Linked DNA regions of Homo sapiens: regions 2 and 3 are each linked to region 1. The links come from fine-mapping of genetic effects on gene expression. A gene starts in region 1. Each other region holds a variant in brackets. All regions are shown on one strand. Distances are from middle to middle.

Region 1 (2,680 bases):
GGTGTGGTGGCTCATGCCTATAATCCCAGCACTTTGGGAGGCCGAGGTGGAAGGATTGCTTGAGGCCAGGAGTTCGAGACCAGCCCAGGCAACACAGTGAAATCCCGTCTCTACGAAAATTTTAAAAATTAGCCAGGTGGGCCAGGGGCGGTAGCTCACGCCTTTAATCCCAGCACTTTGGGAGGCTGAGGTGGGTGGATCACCTGAGGTCAGAAGTTCGAAACCAGCCTGGCCAACATGATGGGGTTTCACCCCATCTCTACTAAAAATACAAAAATTAGCCGGGTGTGGTTGCGCACGCCTGTAATCCCAGCTACTCGGGAGGCTGCAGCAGGAGAACTGCTTGAACCCAGGGGGCGGAGGCTGCAGTGAGCCAAGATCGTGCCACTGCACTCCAGCCTGGGCAACAGAGCGAGACTCCGTCTCAAAAAAAAAAAAAAAAAAAAAGAAAAGAAAAGAAAAAATTAGCCAGGTGTGGTGGTGAATGCCTGTAGTCCCAGCTACTAGGGAGGCTGAGGTGGGAGGACTGCTTGAGCCTGGGAGGTGGAGGCTGCTGTGAGCCGTGGTTGTGCACATCCCTCCTGGGCAACAGAACAAGACCCTGTCTCAAAAATAAATAAATGAGCTTCATAACTAGTATTATGTTGATATATATTTGAATAACATAATAATTTGGGTAAACCAAGGGTCTCATATTAGTCAAGTTTGAGAAAAACTTGCAAAACGTCTAATTAATACCTTCAACTCCTGCTGGTTTTACGAAGAAAAACATTCACCGAATACTTACTACGTGTGCAAGGACTGTGCTAGCTGCTGTAATTCATGAAGCTTGCAACTGTAATATTAGATACTTTATAAGTTACACAGAATCAGTGGGCGATCATTCACCAAGACTTCCTCTTCCTGCCTTTAGTATGTTAACATTGTTTCTGACATGTGTTTCTAAATAACTACTTGGGGGCAGAAGTCACAGCTATTTTTCCTCCGACACAATATTTGACTTCCTTCTGACACTGGGGCTTCAAGTTAGGGCTGGAGTGGACAGAGCAATTTCACAACACAGAAAACAGAATAAAGAGTCCATCACCTGAGTCTCTCAGTCGAGCAAGTTCCTGCCGACGTTTCTTTCGTTTCTCCTTCTTCAGGGCGGCCCTGTACTTTTTGTGGCTGGAAGATTAAGACATATACACGACGATCAGCGGCTACAATGCAGCGCTGCCCGAGCTCCCCGCTCCTCTGTGCCCAATGAAAGGAAATAGTTCGGGTGCTGAGGAGAGAAACCTTGCTTCCTGTATTTTAATTACAGAACAGCCATCTATCATCGCCTCATCCTCCCACTCCCAGACAGTTCTTCTCCATCCGCCAACCTGATCCTCTCCTCGCTTGCCTGAGCCACAGCCGCCCGTGCAAGTCCGGGGAGGGCACCAGAGCGCGCACCAGGAAGGAATGGAGCTGCCGCGGTGGCTCACTTAGCTTGGCCCAGCTTCTCTTTTCTTCCTGCCACCACATCCTCCATGCCCACGATCGGCCCGCTCGCCTGCTCATCTCCCCGTACGGCGCTTACCTTGGTTTCTCGGGAAACGTCATCTTCTCGGGCGCAGCCATCTTGCCGGCACCGCCCCGCCCCTCCAGGTCTGGCAGGAAAGGGCGGGCCTAAGAGTCGAGACGGGCACGCGCAGGCGCGGGTACCGAGCAACCTCCACCAGCGTGGGACTTGAAACGGAAAGCCGGAGGTACCCTTCGGCGGCTCGTCTTCCAGAACCCTGCTCAAATAAATACCTCCTTCCAGCAAAAATACTCTGGGGCTTTTACCCCGCCCTAGAAGTAATTGTCGCTTCAGCACTTGCCCAGTGCTGTATCACTGTCTCCCTCCTCGCCCTAGCAGGACGTGTTGTGGCTAGGCGGTTAAAGTCGTACTCTGCCGCTTTTCTCAGCATCCACTCATGAAGTCACATCGCGCACAGAGCTGCTCGCCCGGCTTTATTTCCGACCTGTCCAGGTTCCGCGTCCTTCCGCCGATCCACCTATCAGCGCCTCAGACAAAGCTCCAGACTTCGCTCCCTGCCAGTCACACCTGTTCTGGTCCCTTAAGCAAACCTAACTCCCAGGGCTGCAAAGCTGTTACCTCTGCCCCTGAGGAGTTTACAATCGAGGGGGCAGAGAAGAACCAATACATAATATGATGCAGGCAAAGATGAAGTTTACCTAACATAGTCCACCAAGGGATTCAGGGAGAGCTCTCTTTTTTTTCCTTTTTTCTTTTTTTTTCAGTATCACATGCGACTCAACTGCAGTATCAGGGACAGCTTTCTGATGCTAAGAGTTGAGTTTGGAAAGAAGATGCCCTTTACCCAGAAGGAGAAGGGTGGGAATGCAGTTACAGTCAGATCAGCATAAGCAAAGGCGCTGAAAGGTGAAAGTGGAATATGCTGGGAACAGCAAGAATTTTGGCAATCGAATTTATTTATTTATTCATTTCTTATATATTAGAGACAGGGTCTTGTCTTTCACCCAGGTTGGAGTGCAGTGGCGCAATCACGACTCGCTGCAGCTTCGACCTCCTGGGGTCAAGCAATCCTTCCACCTCAGCCTCCCGAGTAGCTGGGAATACAGGCGCGAGCCACCACGCCCGCCCAGCTATCCAATTTAAAGTGCAGTTCGAGGCTGGGTGCAGCGGCTC
Region 2 (2,680 bases), 35 kb before region 1:
CTTCTTACACTAAAAATTATTTCTTAGGCATTCTGAATCTGGGATGAGAAACAGGATTGTTTCACAATAGTAAGCACATAATTTTTAAGGCCAAGGCACATTTGACTCCTGAGATGAATTTTTTGTGGTCATAATCAAATACTTAGTTGTTTTTGATGCCCCAAAATAAAGTGAGAATGGTAATTTGCCAGGAATTCTTCATAACAGTATCTTACAAAAAACGTGTTGCTCTCTTCACAGTATTATGTGTAAAGTCATTGTTTAAAGCACGAATGTTCCCTCTGGGGTACTTGTTAAAGCTAAATTTATTTTGCTTCCCTCCACTTAGAAGTGCTGCACACTTTACAGCAGCTTCCTTTCTTTCCATGGCACTGCCTAGTTAACAGAAGTCTTATAAAAATTTAAAAAGACACATTTCTTACAAAAAAGAGTTGAATGAGGTAAAATGGCATTAGATGGCTCTATATTTTTTAAAGCTATGTAATTGTTCAGCGTCACTTTTCTAAGTACTTATACATATCTAAACATGTCTTCATGGTTTATATTTTCACTTATATATGCTGGGCTGGATTAAGCTTTGTTGTGATTGTGACCAACATTCAGGCCACGTGAGCACTGTCTTATCACATCGCCAATTAGTTGTAATAAACGTTCAACGTACAAACACTGGAGTGTGTTTTTATCTCTTTCCAAAAGTTTGTCAAACTATGCAGAGCTGCTGAAGGAAGAATTTCTCATTTTTTTTTCAGTAAAATGTTGAAAATTCCCCTCCATTTGAATATGGTGGTTGTTATAAGCACACACAAGATACATGGTGGAAGATCTAAGGAGTCTTCATGTACTTCATTAAAAAATAACATGGATTCCATACTGAGAGCCTATCTACACATTTATTTTCAATCAATAAATGCTGCTTTTAAAACCTTGATGCAGTTGACTTTTCTACTCTTTCTGAATGAACAACTTAGACTGTTACTCAAAAGGTATTTCAAATCAACTGGATTCCTCTTACCCCCTTGTGAACTGAAGGTGCTAGCACATGCAACAGAAAGGGACTAATACTTGCAGACTGTACTACCTAACCTATGCAACAAATCAAATCTATGGTAATCATGATAGTTAAGGGACCTCCTATTACTACAGATAGGAAATGTTACATTCTAAAACTGGGCTATTTAAGAAGGAGGCAGGAACTACCATCAAATTAAGTTGCTAGTCTACTGGAAAAAAAGACGTTTATAGGTTTAAAAAGCCTCCAACATGCAGCTAGCTATTCACTGAAAACAGGCCTGTGGGTTTCTGCTAGCAATGTATAGTTGGAATTTTTGAAACATAAATAGTAATCAGGCAATATATATTAAAAAAAACTAATAAATTTAAGTTCAAGATGGACATTTATCAGGATAATGAACCAGTCAGTGGTTTAAAAACTTCCTGCCCTTCTACCCTGCCTATTAACATTTGAGGGGAAAGTCATCAATATCTCAGTTGTC[C/T]TGAGCTCAAGATGGTGGTTTTCTTTCTTAGCCTCCATGATTTATTAAGATTTCAGCTTTGCAGACCACATTTAATTGCATATATCTTGACTGTATTTAGAAAAGTATTAAAAAATACTGAATTTAATGATAATTACTCGGCGTTACTGAAATCAGTAGATAGTTCTAGGTCAATCATTTTCAGGGTGAAGCAGGCATTTAGAGTCTGGAACAAATCCAACTTTTTAAAGTGAAATTATCCTGGGCCACATGCATGATTTCTTTTATTGACTACACATGAAAGAACTCTCATCCTTAACAGATATCATGCAGAAATTCCAATTTTGAGGAAACTTTCTTCCTACTTAAATTTCGTTAACGTTTCAGTATTTTACGTATGTTTTAAGTCCTTATTCCCAAATCTCAAATTGAAAAATGTCACATACTCCAAAATTCTAGATCCCAAATATGTCAATGGAAAGAAAGCGACAAAAAATTGATAAAGCTGGAGAGCATCTTATTTATGATCAGAAATCTAGGTATAATATTTTGCCTGAAGCTTTTTCTGCATTAGGTTCTATTCTCTGACCATTCTGTTGAGATTTTTATACCAGGATTGCTTTAACACTAGGCATATTTAGTACCAATGACCCTAATATTCCTGGAAATGACAAAAATAAACTTTACTCCTATATAAAGAACTTTCCAACACACTATTTAAAAAAGTACACGACAGCCCCCAGCTGAAGAGTAGGAGGAAAAAAAATGGACTTTGCCCATCAGTACTTTAAAACTGAGAAAATGAACTTTAAAGCAAAAAAGCTGTTCAGCTATTACATATAGAAAAATCCAATAGATTATTAATAAAAGGCAAACAAGCAGGGCTCACCTGTAGTTTCAGATATTCAGGAGGCTGAGCCAAGAAGATCGCTTGAGCCCAGGAGTTTGAGGCTACAGTGCACAATGATCATGTGAACAGCCACTGCCCTCCAGTCTGGGCAACATAGCAAGACCCTGTCTCTAAAAAAAGGGGTAGGGGGCCAACAAGAATAAAAAAACATTAAATATATGAACACATAAAATTTATCAAATTGGTAAGGATTAAAATTACTTGGCGTTGTGGGAGCAGCAAAGTTTATTGACATAATAAATTTTTTATAGTCTTCTGGCAGGCAACTTGGAAATATTTTAGTATTCATGTCCTTGAT
Region 3 (2,680 bases), 23 kb after region 1:
TCTTTTATTTTTTTCTTGGTCTCCCCCAATTAAAAGTTTGTGAACTTTGTTGATCTTCCCAAAGAACCAACTTTTGATTTCATTGATTTCTGCTCGTTCTTTATTATGCCCTTCTCTCTACTTGCTTTTGGGTTTAGTTTGTTCTTCTTTTTCTAGTTTCTTAAGGCGGAAAGCTGAGATACTGACTTGAGAAAGTTCTTCTCTATTGTAGGCATTTTCATCTATACATTTCCCTCTAAGCACTGCTTTAGCTGCATCCCAAAAGGACTGGTATGATGTTTTTGTCACATACCTTCCCCAGCTCCTTTTCCTTGCACTTTATTCCAATCCTCACAAAGCACACTGTGGCAGCATTTCTTAGGGTTTTGTCTTTGAAATTTATAGACATCGATATTTATTAGGTTTTTACTTTTCTAGAATTGTTTCTTGCCTTTGTTTCTAAAATGTCTTGCTTTCTTTCACTTTTTATTTTTTATGTTCATTCACTCTTTTTTTCCTCTTTGCATGCTATTGATTGTTTTGCAACAACATGGAGAAATAGCAGCAAAGAATAAACAGGAAATAAGAGGCAGTCACTGAAAGGTGGAAAAAGAGAGAGAGAGAGAGAGAGAAAATTAGGTAATTACTAAAAATTGATGCTATCTTAAAGAAAATAATTATTAAAGCATAATTTAAAAGGGCTATCAGTTTTAGTTCTTTCTAACCAAACAAAAAAATTAGCAAACTCTCTACAAGTTTTCTTGCATATTTTGTAAGTGTGTGACTGACACTCCCAGGGAAGACAGGTTCAAGGGGTGATTTAGTCAGTTGGGTTTGTAGGTATCTAAAAAGAAGCTATTATGACAAAAACGTTGATGACTTGTTTTCCATCTAAGATTACTCATGCAAATGGGTAGATAAGAATTCTTGAGGCCTGGCTCGGTGGCTCATACCTATAATCCAAGCACTTTGGGAGGCCGAGGTGGGAGGATCACTTGATCTCAGGAACCCCATCTCTACAAAAAATACAAAAATTTGCCGGAGCTGGGAGCAGTGGCTCAC[A/G]CCTATAATCTCAGCACTTTGGGAGGCCAAGGTGGGCAGATCACTTGAGGTCAGGAGTTTGAGACCAGCCTGGCCAACATGGTGAAACCCGTCTCTACTAAAATACAAAAATTAGCCAGGTGTGATGGCATGTGCCTGTAATCCCAGCTACTCAGGAGGCTGAGGCGGGATAATTGCCTGAAGCCAGGAGGTGAAGGTTGCAGTGAGCCAAGATCACGCCACTGCACTCCAGCCTGGGCGACAGAGTGAGACACCATCTCAAAAAAAAAAAAAAAAAAAGGCCAGGTGCAGTGGCTCACACCTGTAATCCCAGCAATTTGGGAGGCCGAGGCAGGTGGATCACCTGAGGTCCTGAGGTCAGGAGTTCGAGACCAGCCTGGCCAACATGGTGAAACCCTGTCTCTACTACAAATACCGAAAATTAGCAGGGTGTAGTGGCAGGCACCTGTAATCCCAGCTACTCAGGAGGCTGAGGTGGGAGAATCACTTGAGCCCGGGAGGCAGAGGTTGCAGTGAGCCGAGATCACGCCATTGCACTCCAGCCTGGGCAACAAGAGCAAAACTCCGTCTTAAAAACAAAAACAAAAACAAACAAACAAACAAAAAAATTAGCCGAGCGTGGTGGCACATGCCTGTGGTCCCAGCTACTCGGGAGGCTGAGGTGGGAGGATTGCTTGAGTCCAGGAGGTTGAGGCTGCAGTGAGCTGCAATCATGCCACTGCACTCCAGCCTGGACAACAGAGCGAGACTCTGTCTCAAAAAAAAAAAAAAATTCTAGAATCTATTGTTCAAAAGAAAAAGAGAGGACTAAAAGATAAAACAGCTATTTACCCTGAAAGTTCTTGGGCTCAAGTCACTTAGTTAAGAAACTCATTAAGCAACTTTCTAAGACTTCCAACTCAATGAAGCAATGATATATTGGCAACAGACAGTCCCTATACTGTCAAGGGCTTTAGAAAGCTGACCAATACCAAGGATCCCCAGAAGAAAGCAGGCTGCTAGGGCCCTAGATGGGGTTGAGAATTCAAAAGGATTACTATGCATGCAGAGTAAATGGATGAGGGTTGGTATCCTATAGACTGGGTCTGCCCATTAGTTTACGTCTGGCAAGGATAATGGTAGAGCCCCATGGGGGACAAGTAGAGCTCACCAGAGTGCCAGACAGTCATCCAGAACACAGGAATTTAGCTTGTTGTTTTGAAGATTTCTGGAATCCGTATAAACAAGGTAATATTATGGACTTCCAGTTGAGAAGGGGGCACACTCTAGAGTTTTGGGGAAATTAAGAAAGATGCATGATGAGGGGTATAATAAAAGCCCAGACTTCACCGCTACACAATATATCCATGTAACAAAACAAAACTAAACTTATACCCACTAAATATATTTTAAAAGAACATATATCAGTATCATTTTTCTTTCTTATCTTTTTTATTCCTCCCTTCTCTAGCTATTCCACCAACAGACCCAGATGGCCTTAAACAATGTTTCCCAAAGGATGGCACATGAGATGGTTTTATGTGGTACAAGAAGCTTTTACTTGTATAGTAAGTTACTTTAAGAGAATTAGAAACAATATAATGAAACACATCAACCTGTGAATTCACAAATATAAAATTTAAATAAATAACAACGCAAA

Which allele goes with the higher level. Alleles are on the strand shown, and positions count from the first base shown. SD is a standard deviation of normalised expression in the study named. Not every link is listed here.
For the expression in nucleus accumbens of the gene that starts at base 1,617 in region 1, allele C in region 2 goes with a higher level than allele T (moderate effect, 0.48 SD a copy in GTEx).

What was found. PIP is the estimated chance that this variant, and not a neighbour inherited with it, causes the effect.
Region 2: its variant is fine-mapped to the expression of ZRSR2 in nucleus accumbens (GTEx, PIP above 0.99). The same link has a PIP of 0.9 or more in prefrontal cortex.
Region 3: its variant is fine-mapped to the expression of ZRSR2 in blood mononuclear cells (TOPMed, PIP 0.93).

The regions. Positions count from the first base shown.
Region 1 is chrX:15,789,421-15,792,100 of GRCh38, reverse strand. ZRSR2 (zinc finger CCCH-type, RNA binding motif and serine/arginine rich 2) reads right to left here and starts at 1,617. Exons shown (of 11, transcript NM_005089.4): 1 at 1,565-1,617; 2 at 1,088-1,167. The coding sequence starts at 1,605. RefSeq lists enhancers at 130-631, 1,290-1,739.
Region 2 is chrX:15,824,054-15,826,733 of GRCh38, reverse strand. AP1S2 (adaptor related protein complex 1 subunit sigma 2) reads left to right here. Exons shown (of 6, transcript NM_001272071.2): 6 at 1-928. Among named protein-coding and RNA genes, the nearest start is that of AP1S2, 29 kb to the left of the region's middle. The variant C/T (reference allele first, on the strand shown) is at 1,494.
Region 3 is chrX:15,766,538-15,769,217 of GRCh38, reverse strand. The region is part of intron 3 of CA5B (carbonic anhydrase 5B); the gene reads right to left. CA5BP1-CA5B (CA5BP1-CA5B readthrough) reads right to left here. Exons shown (of 12, transcript NR_160544.1): 7 at 1-575. Among named protein-coding and RNA genes, the nearest start is that of INE2, 20 kb to the left of the region's middle. RefSeq lists an enhancer at 1-30. The variant A/G (reference allele first, on the strand shown) is at 1,042.